Regions from separate parts of the Homo sapiens genome. Here region 1 is linked to region 2. The links come from fine-mapping of genetic effects on gene expression. A gene starts in region 2. The other region holds a variant in brackets. All regions are shown on one strand. Distances are between the middles of the regions.

Region 1 (2,908 bases), 35 kb after region 2:
TGGGGGCTCTCTGCAGTGGCTCCACCCCGGTGACAAATCTCTGCTCGGGCCCTGAGGTCAAAGAAATCCTTTCCATCGAGGTGGAGGCGGCCGTGCTCCCACAGCTCATACAGTATGCATACCTACAGAGTCAGCACCACATGGATGCCACCAAGATTTATAACTTGCGCCCTCTGGAGCAGTGGCCCAACCTGCACCTGGTCCTGCTTGAGCCACAGCTAGGGTGACGGAGGAATGCTCTGCTGGAAATGTGGGGAGCAGAGACCTGAGGTGGCCCTAGGCAGTGATCTCTGAGACCCCGCAGGCGCCTGGGCCCTTCCCCTGAAACTGTTCTGCCGCAAGGCTCTAACCCTCTGGGCCTCTAATGAGCAAGGCAGCCCCAAATGCCTTTGGGGTCATTCTCCGAAATGGCTTTGGAGTCATTTTCCGAAATGACTTTGGGGTCATTTTCCCGTTCTCTTGATAACTAGCACCTGGCTTCCTTCTACACATACTAACCTGCTTATCAGTCCTGTGGCCATACCCGTGGTTTTCTCTCCTACACACACGTTTTTCTCTTTTTCATGGCTAGGCTGAGAATTTTTCAGATATTGACCTTTAGCTTTCCTTTTGATGGTAAATTCTGCCTTCAAATTATTTCTCTTTTCTCACGTTTTTTTTTTTGTTGATGTTGTTGTTGTTTTTGAGATGGAGTTTTGCTTTTGTCACCCAGGCTGGAGTGCAATGGCGCGATCTCGGCTCACTGCAACCTCCCTCTCCCGGGTTCAAGCGATTCTCCTGCCTCAGTCTCCCGAGTAGCTGGGACTACAGGCTCCTGCCACCGCGCCCGGCTAATTTTTTTATGTTTAGTAGAGACAGGGTTTCACCATGTTTGTCAGGCTTATCTCGAACTCCTGACCTCAGGTGATCTGCCTGCCTCGCCCTCCCAAAGTGCTGGGATTACAGGCGTGAGCCACCGCACCTGGCCTCTCATGTTTTTCTATAAGCAGTTAAGAGAAGCCACACAGCATCCTGAACACTTTGCTTTCTATCTCTTCTGCCAAATATCCTAGGTCATCATTCTTAAGTTCTGCCCTCCATGAAGTCCTAGGAAACGACATAATTCAGGTAAGTTCTTTACCACTTTCTAACAAGGATAACCTTTCTTCTAGTTTCCAATACCTTGTTCTTTATTTCTGTCTGAGACCTCATCAGAATTGCCTTCACCATCGGTATCTCTATCAACATTCTGTTCATGACCACTTAGGCAATCTCTAAGAACGAGGCTTTCCCCACAGCTCATATCCCACATCTACAGCTCTCCTCTTCTTCTGAGCCCTCACCAGAATCATCCTTAGTGCTCCGTTCATGGCAATCCAGGCTTTTTTCAGCACTCACTTCAAAGCTGTTCCAGCTTGTATTCATTATCCAGTTCCAAAGCCACCCCCACATTTTTACATATTTGTTATAACCCCTGGTTATAAATGTTATAAACTCCTCTGGTACCA[A/G]TTTCTGTCTTAGTCCCTGTTGTGCTGATATCACACAATACGCAGACTGGGTAATTTATAAAGAACAACAATTTATTTCTCACTGTTCTGAAAGCTGGGAAGTCCAAGATCAAGGCAGCAGCATCTGGTGTCTGCTGAGGGCTGCATCCTCACATGCAGGAGGACAAACAGGGGACCAGCTCCCTCCAGCCAACCCCTGTATGAGGGAGGGCATCTGCTCCTAGTTCAGGAGGGAGGGGCCCTCATGGCCTAGTCCCTTCTTAAAAGTCCTCTTCTCGGCCGGGTGTGGTGGCTCACACCTGTAATCCCAGCACTTTGGGAGGCCGAGGTGGGCAGATCACCTAAGGTCAGGAGTTCGAGAAAAGCCTGGCCAACATGGTGAAACCCCGTCTCTACTAAAAATATAAAAATTAGCCAGGCGTGGTGGCGGGTGCCTGTAATTCCAGCTACTCGGGAGGCTGAGGCAGGAGAATCGCTTGAACCTGGGAGGCAGAGGTTGTAGTGAGCCAAGATCGTGCCACTGCACTCCAGCCTGGGTGACAGAGTGAAACTCTGCCTCAAAAAAAAAAAAAAAGTCCCCTTCTCTTAATGCTATCACCTTGGCAACACCTGGATTTTGGAGGGGACACATTCAAACCACAGCAATCACCAACAACTGGTATTTTTCTCCCACCCTACATATTCTTTAGGTAACCACCCAGGCCAGTGGGGAAAATAATCAATCTACTTCTGAATAAATCCTAGCTATAGTTTCATGCTACTGCAAATGGGATAACAGCAAATCATGCCTGAAAATTTTTGGAATAAGGTGATGTTTACATCGTTATGCTGATTTTTACAAACTGTGAATCATATTGACCAGGTTCATTTGTACTAGACCACCACACCAAAACTTTATAAAATTATTTTCCAGTTGGGTGAAAAATGATGTTGTGCTTTCGTTTGCCCATCTCTAATTTCCGGGAGATTTATAATTTGTTTGTATTATTTTGTGAATCATCCGTTCATGTCTTCTGCCTATTCTTCTACGGTCTTTTTCTTATCAATTTGTAAAGACTCTAATGTAATAGCCAACTGCTACAAGCATGTTTCTGATTTGTTGTTTACCTTTTGATGTTCTTGATATTAAAAGATGCTTATATAGCTGAACGTTTTTCTTTTCTAGTTCCCCCCTTTATGTTTATGGCTTGGAAGTTTTCTCTATCTGAGATCAATAAATATTACCTATCCTCCTCTTTCCCCACCCTCATCCTTTTATTTTACCCACATGTTTAAAGCATTACAGACAGTGGAGTCCAGTTGGTTATGCAACTCACTTTACAGATGAGACTTCAGTGACGTAACATAAGGCTTGTTTTATGAGAATGTGTTGATCCTTCTTAACGTGGCTTATGATTTGCAATCTCAGGCACGTATTGTGT
Region 2 (2,908 bases):
GCTCGGATGGCCAGCTTTTATTCCCTCATTGGCCCCGCCCACATCCTCCTGATTGGTCCTGCCCACATCCTCCTGATTGGTCCATTTTACAGAGCGCTGATTGGTCCATTTTACAGAGTGCTGATTGGTCCATTTTACAGAGTGCTGATTGGTCCGTTTTTACAGAGTGCTGATTGATGTGTTTACAAACCTTTAGCTAGACATAGAGCATTGATTGGTGCATTTACAATCCTTTGGCTAGAGAGAAAAGTTCTCCAAGTCCCCACCAATTAGCTGGACACAGAGCACTGATTGGTGCATTTTTACAGAGTGCTGATTGGTGTGTTTACAAACCTTTAGCTAGACACAGAGTGCAGATTGATGCTTTTACAATCCTTTAGCTAGACAGAAAAGTTCTCCAAGTCCCCATCCGACCCAGAAGCCCAGCGGGTTTCACCTCTCAGTAGCTTACAGAAGAGGACCCTGCTGCCACAGCACAATACCACAAAGAAAGTCATGCTCTCCTCAGCAGGTAGCCCCCTTCTCCGGGACAGGAACTTTGTTTCCTTCTTAGCTCTATCGCCAGCACCTAGAACAGTGCCCACCTGTCAGATCTGTTATCAGATGGGAACATGGCAGATTTGTTGAATGAATGAAGGAATGAATGAACTATGTGACACTCAAACTTAGCCACCAAACTTAAACTAAAAAAACTGGGTTGTGGTCCCTGATGGACCGTTGGCACCTTCTTCCTTTGCTGGACGGTGATCCGTGGCTGTTTCTGCGGTGTGTTCGCAGTGGTTGCCTGGCTTGGTAACAAACACTCTTCGGAGCCACAGCCTGTTCTCAGGGTCCTCGCCGCCTCCCAGGCCCTGCGATCTCTTTGCATCTCAGGAGGTCCAGGTTGGTTGCAGTCCTCTTGGGTGACTCAGGAACCAGCCTCTCCTGAAGCACACAGCTTAGGGAGTTCCTGAGGCCAGAGACATCTCCACGGGAAAGTCAAAGGCCTGGAGGAAGTGCGGACCTGACGACAGATGCCCCGCACGCTGGCCGGGACCGGGAAGGGCGGTCAAGGGTGGAAAGGGGCTGGCGGCTGCCAGGCCTGGCGGAGTGGAGCGGGGCGGGGCGCAGCGGGGCGGGGCGGGCCTGGAGCTGCACCTGCTTCTGGGCGGACGCACTTGGCGCGCGGCGCGGGCTGCAGACGGCTGCGAGGCGCTGGGCACAGGTCAGACGTCCGTACCCGCAGGGGGCTCGAACCTGGAGGAGGGCTCGAAGGGAGAGGGGGCCCCGCCAAGGAGCGGGGCTGTGATGGAGAGGAGGTTCCGACTCGCAGGGGACCTGCGGGGGAGGGGACGCGGACAGGGAGGGGCTCTGGGACAGGGGTGAAGGCTGCGCTAGGGGAGGACGGGAGGGGATGGAGGGCCCTGGTGTCGCGGAAGCCCAGCTGGGGCCCCCTCCGGGCTGCGGAACCGGTGCGCACACTACTCCCACCGCCCCCGAGTGCCTCTGTCCGGCTGGCCGCGGCCCTGGAACGAATATTGCTCAGTCCCCCGCGAGTCAGGTCTGCCGCGTTGCCCGGTGAGGGGAAGGTGTGAAGCCCCGGGCCTCCGTCTGCCCGGTGAGTCCGGGGACGCGCGCCCCCGGGGATGCCATCTGGCTCCTGGGCTGTGACCAGTCACAGCTCACATAGCTCTGGGCACTGGTACCGACTGCCTTTCCTTGTTAGCTGCGATACACAAATACACGAGCCAGATCCTTTCCTGAGGCCAGGAAGCCTGGAATCTAATAACACCGGGCGGTGGATAAAGTCCCCCGAGCCAGTGCTTAGCTTCCGTTAATGGAGCCATGGATGGAAGCGGATGTCAGGCGCAGTGGGGGAGAAATTTGCGGGGGTGGCCCTGTCTAGGGCCAGAGAAACAACCTCTGAAGCTTTGATCCAGCCCTAGAGGGAAGAAAGATGTGAGTTTCAGCCAGGGAAACGTAGCACTTTAAGAAATAGAAACCCTTTCAAAATTTGAGGGCAGGTAGCTCTCCTAAAAGTTGCAGAAATGGCCACTTCTTTTTTTTTTTTTTTTTTTTTTTGAGACGGAGTCTCGCTCTGTCGCCCAGGCTGGAGTGCAGTGGCGCAATCTCGGATCACTGCAAGCTCCACCTCCCGGGTTCACACCATTCTCCTGCCTCAGCCTCCCGAGTAGCTAGGACTACTGGCGCCCGCCACCACGCCCGGCTAATTTTTTGTATTTTTTTTTTTTTTGGTAGAGACGGGGTTTCACCGTGTTAGCCAGGATGGTCTCGATCTCCTGACCTCATGATCCACCCGCCTCAGCCTCCCAAAGTGCTGGGATTACAGGCGTGAACCACCGCGCCCAGCTAGAAATGGCCACTTCTTTCACGTTCTCTTCGACCGCTTTCTGCGGTGTCTGCCCTTTTCCTCCTCCTGCACCTTTTTGTCTCCTAGGGTCGCATAGCCTTCCAAACAGGCCTGCCTACAGCATTTTACCTGCAATTTTACACTCATTTTAATAGAAAGGATGGCTTATTGTTCATGAGAGACGTGTACTGTTTTTAACCAGATGTGTAATATCTTCAGTATAACCTGGATGTTGTGCAGTGGGAAGTTATGGAAAGAATCAGGACACGTGGTTAGGTAGGGGCCCAGGGGCGTCAGACTTAGCTCTTTGTGACAGTGAGCTTCTTGGTTTAATAAGGATATTGGCTCCCTCTGTTCCTGGGGTTTCTGGGAAAAGATATGGAACTGATATGAAGGTTTTATTGAATATGGCCCACTGATTTTACAAGTGGAGGTGACTGAGATAAGCAGAAGGTGAGGCATGACCTCTGGCTGTGCATTATTTGTTCTGATATTACAGGAGCCAAGCATTCCATTTCCTTCTTTTTAAAGAGCTTTGATTTCCTCTCACATCTTCAT

Evidence for each region. PIP is the estimated chance that this variant, and not a neighbour inherited with it, causes the effect. A credible set is the group of variants that fine-mapping cannot tell apart.
Region 1: its variant is the best candidate, but not a certain one, in a credible set for the expression of TMEM45B in whole blood (INTERVAL, PIP 0.77).

Annotation. Positions count from the first base shown.
Region 1 is chr11:129,849,498-129,852,405 of GRCh38, forward strand. The region is part of intron 1 of TMEM45B (transmembrane protein 45B); the gene reads left to right. Among named protein-coding and RNA genes, the nearest start is that of TMEM45B, 35 kb to the left of the region's middle. The variant A/G (reference allele first, on the strand shown) is at 1,488.
Region 2 is chr11:129,814,695-129,817,602 of GRCh38, forward strand. TMEM45B (transmembrane protein 45B) reads left to right here and starts at 1,154. Exons shown (of 6, transcript NM_138788.5): 1 at 1,154-1,204.